2 separate regions of the Homo sapiens genome follow, and region 2 is linked to region 1. Evidence: fine-mapped expression QTL. A gene starts in region 1. The other region holds a variant in brackets. All regions are shown on one strand. Distances are between the middles of the regions.

Region 1 (5,375 bases):
AGATTATAGGCGTGAGCCACCGCATCCGGCTTCTTTTTTTGACAGAGGCTTGCTCTGTCGCCCAGTTGGAGTGCAGTGGCATGATCTCGGCTCATTGCAACTTCCACCTCCCAGGTTCAAGCAATTCTCCTGAGGAGATGGAATTGCAGGTGCACGCCACCACACCCAGCTAATTTTTGTATTTTTAGTAGAGACAGGGTTTCACCATGTTGGCCAGGCTGGTCTCGAACTCCTGACCTCAAGTAATCCACCGGCCTCAGCCTCCCAAAGTGCTGGGATTACAAGCGTGAGCCTCCGTGCCCGGCGGTGGAACCCGTCTTCACAGAGCTAGCTGGGGAGAACACAGAAGCAGGAAGCGAAGGTCGTTTTCCTCCTCCTTGCAGGCTTCTGAGCTTGGGTCAGGTTGGGGTCTGGTGGGTGGTGGGAGGCTAGTGGGGAAGGCTTGAATGGATTGCGATTAAAGTTTTGATTTGGATTGGGCTGGACTTTTTATTATCAGCAAATCTGACTGTTTATGAACACCTGAAAGTGACAGGAAAAGCTATGAAATTTGCCCCAGATTCTTCCAGGGGAGAAGGGAGAGCTTCTGGAATAATTTTTAAAGACAGTGGTCTGAAAAAAAAAAGTGCCATTTCATGATTTCCCTTCACCAAGTAGTCCAGTTGGTTAAAAAAAAAAATTAACTGTCATAAAGTATTGGTTAACACAGTGGTTTGGAAAGACATCCCCTAAAAACAAAAAACGCCAACCTAAATAGTGCAAAGACCAGCAACATCGTTTCATCTTTATAATGGTAAATGTTTATTCCATTGCTGTTTGAATCAGTCTGCAGAAGTCCTCTGGTTTCGCTTGCCTTTTCAAACCTCCAGGTGCACCGCGTGAGGGAGTCTGAGCATTTCAGGTAGGACTGGAAAAAGGTCTTTGAGAAATCATTAATTAATCTATTTACCTTACCATAAGAGCAGTCAAGGCTCGCTGGAACCCCTCGGACAGTGGGGAGGCACATTTGGTGCTCATTAAACATAGAAATAAGCTTGCTTCTAGAAAGAAACGCCTGCCTTTTGCGCAAATCTTTTCAGAGACTGGCTTTGGGCTCCTATGAATCAGGCACCCTAGCGTCCTCCAAAGTTCTTCCCGATGCTGAACCCCAATGCCTCCTGCTGCGCCTAATTCGAAGCGGCTCCCTCTTCTGTTCTGAGCGGAAAACAGCGGAACCCATTCCTGGAGGCCTGCCCTGGAACGGCCAACTCATTCTTACTCCTTTCTCCTGGGGTCCGATGCTAGGGCACCACGGTGACCAGCCGCGCAGCGGGCAGCGGCCCGCGCCGCGCCCACCGCCTGCGGAGGCTGGGTCTGGGTCTGGGTCTGGGGCTGGAGCTGGGGCTGGGGCTGAGGCGGGAGCTGGGGCGGGGGCGGGGGCTGGGGCTGGGGCTGGGGCTGGGGCTGGGGCTGGGGCTGGGGCGGGCAGGCGCGCGCGCAGGAGCGGGCGCAGGGGCCGTCGGCAGAGGGCGCTACGGCTCCCGGCTGCGGAGCTGCGACGCGGGGCGCGGGGCGCGGAGCGCGGGCCGGGAGGAGGCGCCTGGGTCTCGGCGAGTGCGTCTCCGGGCGGCCGGGAGGGGGTGCGCGCATCAGCTGCCCCGCGCCGCCTACCGCTCGGGCCCGCTCGCCGCCCGGCCACTGTCACCGCGGACGGCACCTCGCGGGCGAGGCGCGCCGGCTGCGTGGCGCGCTGCGAAGGTTGGGCTGGGCGGCCGCCGGCCCCGCGGCTTCTCTTTGTCCAGGCGAGGCGGCTGGAGGAGCAGCCGCGGCCGCGGCGGAGCCGGGAGCGCCTGGGCGTCGTGCGGGCGGCTCCGGTCCCCGGCTGCGCCCCGGCCCTCGAGCGGGGGCGGCGGCCTGGGCGGTGCCTGCGCCGAGGTGAGTGCGGGGGCGCGGAGCGGAGCGCAGCCGCGGCGCGGGCGTGGGCGGGCAGAGGTGATAGCGAGCGCCGGCGGCTCCAGGTGCGGGGGCGCCCCTCGCGCTCCACCTGCGCCGCCGCCGCCGGCTCTCAGGGCAAGTTTATCTCCCCCCTTCTGCGGAAACCCTTGACCGCTTAGCGGAGTACAGACCTGTCGGTAAATAGAAAACTCGAGCTGGAGAGGAGGAGGAAGCAGCGTGGCGGAACCCGGCCCGAGATGAGCGTCTCCGTGAGGGCAGTGGTGGCCTCTTGGACATTACATCTTTCTTGGCTCTTTTTGACCCAGGTGAGCGAATCCTCTGCTGCGCGGTCCGGTGGGGTCGGCTGGCTCTGCTGCCGCCCTCTGGACCCGCCGGAGACAGGTGAGCGGAGTTGGGGAGCGCGCAGCCGGGCTCGGGGCAGCGCCGGGCTGGTTCGGCTTCTCGTCTCCAGAGCGCTGATGCTTCCTGCCCACATCACCTGCTCTGGCTTAGGGACTGCAGCTCTTTTGGCACCTTCGCTTGCTGCCAGGTTCAACACCCACTGCTTTAGAGGCGTTGGTAGGTTAGTTAAGGCGAGTTCTCCCCTACCCACCCCCAGCTTTGGATAATTTGGTCTGAGTCTTCGTCTTAATTTAGTATGAGTGTGTTATTTCCTTCAAGCTTTATAATGGTAAAGCAGTGAAGCGGCTTGCTACATCCATTTTTTTTTTTCATTCTGTGCCTGTGCACAGAAGGAATTACAGGCACACAAGTGATGTTACTACCATTCTATTTTAAATACAAACACGGAAAGAAGTACTCTTGGCAGGATACCAAAGGCGCCTGTACTCTCTGTTATATAAATGCTTAAAAAAATTTGCTCATTGGTAAAGTTATGTGTGATTACCAGAGCACCTAAGAAGAGAGTGTCATGCTTTTAGTTTACTTGGAGATAAGCAGTGGTCTTAGCTTGAGGTACCCTTTTAAGATAATATAGGACCCTATATTAAAAAAGTCATTAGGTATAATTGTAAAGCATTAAAAAATTGGTTTTGTAAAGTCTATTAGGAATTGGTGAGAATTCTTTGACTACTTATTGATAAAAAGATCCTACATGTATACTTTCTAGTTTTCAAACTATTGAATGATTTTATTTTTATCTCTGATGGAAACTTAGTAATTGTGAGTTGCCAGTTATTAAAGATGTGTCTCTCTTTCCCTTCCCTTTCCCCAGGCCCCAAAACCAGTACTCACATTTATGGCTATTTTTTTCAGGTAAAAATACAAAAGTAGAAAACATCAGATATACTGATGGCTGGGAACAGCCCTTGTCCCTCCTCCACCCAGTATTCTGTTCTAATTGGTCTGGGCTGATACCTTGATACCTGTAATGTTAAAAAGCTTTCCTGGTGATTCTAACGTGTAGCCAGGGGTGAGACCCATTGTGGAGCATTGTATTGTCACTTTCTGTAGCCTATGGTGTTGCTACAGTGGTTTAAGGTAAGTCAAAAATACGTTGTTAGAAACATGGGAAGAAAAAAATGGTATTGGAAAGGGGACACATCAGAGAATTACAGCATGTAGACTTTTGTGTTTTGTCTAAATGCTCTTTCTTGATTTTCCTGCGAAGAGTAGTTGATGTTTATTAGGGACCCATAATTCCATGTAGAATACTTACGGGAATCTTAAGTGATATATTTCATTTGCAGAAGTACCAATGAAAGTTGAGTAGTAGTGGCAGGATATTCATTTATGTTTACACGGTAAAGTAAGTCATAGGAAAGATTATTTTCCATATCAAATTAAAAACTTTTACTATAAACTAGTAAATTAAGTGCAAAAAGTTTTTATTGTTTTTAAGGTCAGAAAGAAACCTGGCCTCTGAGTCAGTGTTTTCTGTCTCCCTTATGTAATCCCAAATATCCAAATCTAGGAGCAGATCTTATGGATGGTTTATGAAGGCTTATGTAAGAGCTATGACTGTGCTTTTGGTACTCCATTAAACTCCCTGTTTGGGCTATTACATAATTGACACGGAACTAGACTGTTAAAGCCAAAATCCAGGAGGATGCCGAAACCCACTCCGGCATACGCACTTTTATAATGAATTGCTGTTGCCAAATTGGAGGGAACAGCAGGGATGGTGGTTTGTGAAAGAGAGGTAAGAATAGCATCTGGGGGATTGATGTAATAGAAGACTGTTATGCTTAGCGATTTTCTAGAGATTTGAATGCTGTGGCAGAAACCTCTCTAGTCCTTTCTATCTCCAGCAGAGGCAGATCGACTGGGGAGCTAATGAACCTAAGCCTCAGGTCCCTCCGTCACAGAGGCTTCTTTGGAGCCCTCTGGGAGGGGCACTGGCAGTGTGTTCATGTGGTCATCCCTGAGTTTGTATTTGTACTTTTGGATTTTTTTTTTAAATAAGGAGAGTACTCTTTCTATATTCCCACCCCCCAATTATATAAACCCAAGGTTCCACAGACCCTGAATCTATCCCTGTCTTCAAACCTGTGTTCAAGTATTAACTTATAAAATTGCCTATTCTTAGTTTAATTTTTGTCATCTGAAAAGATGAAAAAAATCTGTACAATATCATAGTTGACTTGCTGAGAAAATGCAAACTGCTATAACCTAGGGCTGTATAGAGCCACTGAAATCAGGCACATACCTGGAGAACTAGCTCTTTGCCTCGTGATCGCACACACATGGGATTGTTTTGGATCAGTGTGTGAGCTGGAGGTGGAGAAGAGTGGAAACGGGTTGGGGAAGGGAGGAAAGTGGGTTAAAGCTCTTCCTCCTCTCAGAGGCAGGATGCCAAGGGGAAAGGAAGGAAAACTATTGAAAGATGCTTCATTAATAAAATGTTAATAGGAACAGATAGCATCAGCTCCATAGGAGATCCTTCTGTAAGCTCAGGATTGGTCTCTAATACGAATTTTCAACAGTAAGCAAACAAACTCATTCCTCGAAAATATCCTACAGGAAACAAATGCAGGTTTGGAAGGACTAGATGAGTATCTGCTTGTTCCCATTAGCAGTTTTTATGAGCAAGTGGGAGGCTTATAATATCTACCACACACATGTTTGAAACGAGTTGTTGAAAAGAGTCAAGGAGTTTCCCCTTTTCTCTGAAATGATTTCTACTTCCTATGTGAATTTGGATGCCTTTAGATCTTATCATCTTGACCCTTCCCACCAACGGGTATACCTTGTCTATCAATTACCCATCCATCAGTCATCTATCTACCATCCACCCACCCATCCACAGAGACTCTCTTTTTGACCAAACTTTAGTCAGGCTCCCCTGAGCCCTCTTCTCAACTGGGCCTCAACCTTGGCCCGTAAGAACTGCAGCTTTCAACACAAACAATTTTGTCTGTGCTCCCACCCTCCAACGGATTTGAAAACACTGTAGCATGGTGTATTAGCCTGTTCTCACCTTGCTGATAAAGACATACCCA
Region 2 (5,375 bases), 130 kb after region 1:
GCATCTCCAACTCAACTGGCCATAGCTCACATTCATTCTTTTATGGCTACATACTGTTCCATGGTATGGACCTCTTATTATTTATTCAACTGTCACCTTTTGTTTTCTTTTTTGCCATTAGGAATAGTGGTATAATAAACGTATTTGTACATTCTTTTTGTACTGGTATTTTTACTTTAAAAAGTGTTACAGTGGGATCTCATTAAAATGTACCTTTAGCAATAGCTATTGCCAGATTGCTTCTAAAATTTTTTTAACAGTTGCCATTAGCAATTTGTGAGAATGCCCCTTTCTTGACATCTCTGTTAGCAATAAGTGCTAATCTTTATGATTTTTGCATCTGGATGGAAATGTTGAGTTTGAGCAGCTTTCTATACACTTGGTCTTTTTGTTCTTGACTTTGCTGGGAATTTCCTATTCATTTTTTTTTTTTTTGCACATTTTTCTACTGAGTTGCTTTTCTATCAACTAAGAGCTCTAGGCTGGGCGCAGTGTCTCATGCCTGTAATCCCTGCACTTTGGGAGGCCGAGGTGGGTGGATCGCCTGAGGTCAGTAGTTTGAGACCAGCCCGGCCAACATGGTAAAACCCCATCTCTACTAAAAATACAAAAATTAGCCGGGCATGGTGGTGTGCACCTGTAATCCCAGCTACTTGGGAGACTGAGAATGGAGAATCTCTTGAAATCTGGACGTGGAGGTTGCAGTGAGCCGAGACCAGGCCATTGCACTCCAGCCTGGGCAACAAGAGTGAAACTCTGTCTCAAAAGCTCTATTGATATCAGCATTTTATTTAAAAATGTTTATTGCAAATATTTTTAGGCCTTTTATTTGTCTTTCAACTTTGCTTGTGATATCTTTTGCTTTTGCAAAATTTTAAAATTTCCATATAGCCAAATATGTATCTTTAGTATTATGTTTATATGTTTTGTGGGATAAGCTCTCCATGCATTCCTAGGTTGTACATATAGTCCCCTCCCTAGATTTTCTTCTTAAGAGCCTATTGGCTTATTTTTGACATCTAGCCTTTCCTTTTATGTATTTTAGTAAAATTACTTTGTGTAATTTTTACATATGGGGCAAGTAAGAGGACCAAATTAATTTTGTTCCAAATAGACAGCCAAAGGTGTCAGCACCATTTATTTGAGTCCCAAAAACATACTGAAGGGGGCGTTAAGGCTTCCCTTGTCAGATGTTAAAACATACTATAAGGGCTACTATAATAAAATCAATGTGATAGACAAATGTGTCAATGGAACAGAATGGAGACTCCAGAAATAGATCTCAGTATAAGTAAAAGTTTAAAATATGACAATGCGGTATTTAAATTCTGTTGTTAAAAGAGTAGTATATTTAAAATATATCTACTTTTTAAAAATTTCAGGGGAAAAAAGAATTTGCAGAGTGTGTTCATTTTTATCAACAATGCAGATAAATATTCATGGCATTTGCGAATAAATTCCACAGAAAAATGCAGAATCTTTGCTGAAGAATTTCTCAGTGGCGGCTCATTTTGGTGTATTTCAGTGACTGTGACAATGACAGTCAAGTCATTTGCTGACCTCACACCATAAGTGCTGACAAGTCTGAGGGAATATCCCAGTGGGTCACTTCTTAATTTCAAGGCACTACAGATGACACAGATGGTACAAGATTAATTACCTAAAAACAAAAGAAAATTGTGACCTTCCATTAGTTTCTTCTCTCATTAGTCCATGCACACGGGGCATTTCCTAACCGAATGCAGCTGGGCAGAATTAGGAGGGAGGGTGTGTTCCTTTATTCAGGAATGTATTCATAGTGGCCCATATGGGGAGTGGGTGTGGGCAGTGCTAAGAGATTCTGAGGAGGAAGGTGGTGGTGTGGGAGCATCATTGAAGTGGAGCCGTGAAGCAGAGGTAGGATTTTAACAGGTGGAATGGAAAAGGTGGCCTTCCAAGAACGTGTGTGACATAAGCACACACGCATGTGCAATAGTTTGGTGAAGTGGATATGTGAGGAGAGAGGGGAATGATCAGGTTAGGAGTGATCAGCCCTACATGATCAGAGGTGGGGCCTCCAGCATGGGAGACTTACGTATAGGGCTGAGTTTGTTTTGGAAAGGTCACTTCGAGGGGTGGTTGGAGTAGAGTCCATTCAGAAGTCTCTTCATAACCATGACCTTATTTGGCCTGTGCTCTGTTGACTGCCCCCAGACAGTTACCATTTACTGAGCAATTCCAGATGCCAAGGTTCATTAGGCACTTCCCATGCAAGAACACTGTGGAGTCAGCAATCGATCCTGGTCTTACAGGTAAGAAAACTGAGTAACGAGACCAGTTTTCACTGGGTTATGTTTATTGGCAGAGCTGCTATTCAGAGTCTGGTCTGATAGGATCCAAAGACTTTGCCCTTTCTAACCTATGACACTGTCTTTTACCCACATGTTACATCTGCGCCCCTGCCACCTGCCCACAGTAATACCAGCCTGACATTGCACGATTTCTGTGAAGTTT[T/C]GCGTAATGCAGCTTGCATTATGGTTAATGCACCCCATGCATAATTGAACTGACTTTAAAGAATAAAATATAAATACAAACTAAAAGCAGATTTATAAGTATCTAGAGGCAGCTTTTGTGTGGTACAGCATTTAAGGAAAGCCTTTATCTTGTTGTCAGCATATTGCCACATTAGCCAGAGCCAGCCAGATGGGAATGTGGTGGCCCACTTAGGTCCTCTTTAATTGCTCACTATAAATAGCTTAATGATGCCGCCATAAAAGGTCTCTGATGTAAGTGAGGGGCTCAGTGTGACCCATATATGTGATGGTTTTCTAGGTGTCTGTGTCTGGGAAAATGGATGGCCGTGTCTGAGATGGTTTTCACTGCTGAAATGAAAGCTTCATTTGTAAGCCAATCCTTTCTTACTCCCCCTCCCTTCAGATGCCATTGTCTCCCTCATTCCTTTCTGCTGTCATCTATGGGGAGGTTGAGGTTGACACTTTATCACTCTCACATGCCAGATAGAATTCCAGCACCCACTTGACCTGGCACCAGGGAGAAGTGCCTGCCTGAGCCAGTCCTGATCTAAGAGGGGCCACTGCAGGCCTTCATGGCATGCCCCTTTCTGCTTGGACCATCATGGGAACTTTAGACACCTTGCTTTGCTCCAGACATGGATGAATTTTCTTTTTTTAAAAATTTCCAGAAGTTATTGGGACACAGGTGGTATTTGGTTATGTGAGTGAGTTCTTTAGTGGTGATTTGTGAGATTTTGGTGCACCCGTTACCCCAGCAGTATCCACAGCACCATATTTGTAGTCTTCTGTCTCTTGCCCCCCCCCATCCTTTCCCCCAAGTCCCCAAAGTCCATTCTGTCATTCTTATGCCTTTGCGTCCTCATAGCTTAGCTCCCACATACCAGTGAGAACATACAATGTTTGGTTTTCCATTCCTGAGTTACTTCACTTAGAATAATAGTCTCTAATCTCATAGACATGGATGAATTTTCTTGATTCAGTCACAAGATCATTTCCGCCATGGTTGTCACTAGCTTTTTTCAGTCCCCACCCTCACCCTCACTCCTATCCCCAGCACCGGGTAGGAGTCTCCCTTAAGGTTCTCGCCTGCCACAGGTTGTAGATGGTGCCACATCAGTTCAATAGGGCGGCAGCAACCCAGTGCTCCTTCTGGTCTACCTGCTCCACCCCCACTGGAGGTTGGCTTCCCACCTTTGTATGAAACATCCCAGTAAAACTTGGTTGGCTTCCCCACCAAAGCCTCTTTTTTCAAAAAGGATAGAATCCTGTAGAATTGGAGATATGAGAGGTCAGGAGGGTTGCACTGAAAGCAGAGGGGGCTACTGGGTAAAGACCATACATAATAAAGACCCAAACTTCAGGGGAGTGTGTATAGCTGGAAGAAACAAAAACACCAATGAAACAAACACTGTAACTTGGAGGATTAAAGGGAGATAGAGGGAGTGAGGGAGCAGTGGGAGGCAGTCCTGGGGAGGTTGTATGGATAAGCTGGTGGGAAGGAAGTGTGGCGGGGACAGAGGGAAGAAGGCTGCCCTAGAGATGGGTGAGCTGGCGGAAAGGAAGTGTGGCGGGGACAGAGGGAAGAAGGCTGCCCTAGAGATGGGTGAGCTGGTGGAAAGAAAGTGTGATGGCGACAGAGGGAAGAAGGCTGCCCTCGAGATGGGCGATCTGGTGGGAAGGAAGTGTTGGGGGACAGAGGGAAGAAGGCTGCCCTAGAGATAGGTGAGCTGGCGGGAAGGAAGTGTGGCAGGGACAGAAGGAAGAAGGCTGCCCTAGAGAAAGAGCAATGCTTTCATAGTCTGGAGCTTGCACCTGCCTTTCCACATGTGCTAAAAGATGTATCACAGTGTACAAAGAGCTCTGGACGTGGAGATAATGGTTGGATTCTCACTGGAATAGAAACAACTTGGTACTTTGGCCCATTAGCATGGGTGCTAATCAGTTGGTGTTAGTGTCTGGTATCCTTTCCCTTTATGAAGAGGTGATCTTTTCCTTACACATAAAAAAATTAATACCAGTGATGACATTTGCCATTCATTCAATACCCATGTTTCCTTTGCACCATGGTTCTTCTCTCCAAAGTTTATCATAAGTCAGTAAAGCGGGGGATACTTTCCTTATTCTATTACATTTTGGTCTTCTGTATCCCTTGGTTCCACATTAATGGATTCATCCAACTGTGGATTGAAAATATTCAGAAAAAAGGAGGATTGCATCTATATTGAACATGCACAGACTTTTTTTCTTGTCACTCTTTCTTAAATAATACAGAATAACAACTATTTATCTAGCATTTACATTGTGTTGGGTATTACTAGTAATCTAGAGAGGATTTAAAGTATACAGGAAGATGTGCTCAGGTTAGATGCAAATACTATGGCATTTTATGTCAGACACTTGAGCACCCACAGATTTTTGTATCTGGAGGGGGGGGTCCTGGGACCAATGCCCTGTGGATACTGGGAGATGGCTGTATTCAGGTAACTTGCCAAGGCCACAGAGGTGAATTTAGAACTCTCTGATTCTAAACTCACACTCTTTCTTGGGAACCACGTCTTTTCTCTCAGAAGCACAGATGTGCATGAACCCTGCAATATGATGCCAGGAATTGGTTCTATTTGCTATGGAATTCAGGAATGTAGCATTCTATGTTTTGTGATAGGCATGGGATAGGAGACATGTGACAAAACTGTAAGGTGGACCTTTAATGAATTACTAGCCTAGACACCTTGAAAAACCACATGCCTGGGGCATGGTCTCCGAGCACAGCCATTTTTTTCTGAAATGAACAGGTGCTGCAACCCGTTGTGCTGGAATTGTCAGCGTTGGCTGTGCTCTAACAGTAATAAAGTAAGAAAAAAT

Direction of the effects. Alleles are on the strand shown, and positions count from the first base shown. SD is a standard deviation of normalised expression in the study named.
For the expression in liver of the gene that starts at base 1,968 in region 1, T is the high allele of the variant in region 2 and C is the other (moderate effect, 0.75 SD a copy in GTEx).

The links. PIP is the estimated chance that this variant, and not a neighbour inherited with it, causes the effect.
Region 2: its variant is the best candidate, but not a certain one, in a credible set for the expression of MTUS2 in liver (GTEx, PIP 0.68).

What each region holds. Positions count from the first base shown.
Region 1 is chr13:28,818,372-28,823,746 of GRCh38, forward strand. It overlaps MTUS2 (microtubule associated scaffold protein 2), which reads left to right and starts at 1,968. Exons shown (of 16, transcript NM_001033602.4): 1 at 1,968-2,240. RefSeq lists silencers at 1,433-1,782, 1,873-1,942 and an enhancer at 1,842-2,342.
Region 2 is chr13:28,952,747-28,958,121 of GRCh38, forward strand. The region is part of intron 2 of MTUS2 (microtubule associated scaffold protein 2); the gene reads left to right. Among named protein-coding and RNA genes, the nearest start is that of MTUS2, 140 kb to the left of the region's middle. The variant T/C (reference allele first, on the strand shown) is at 2,494.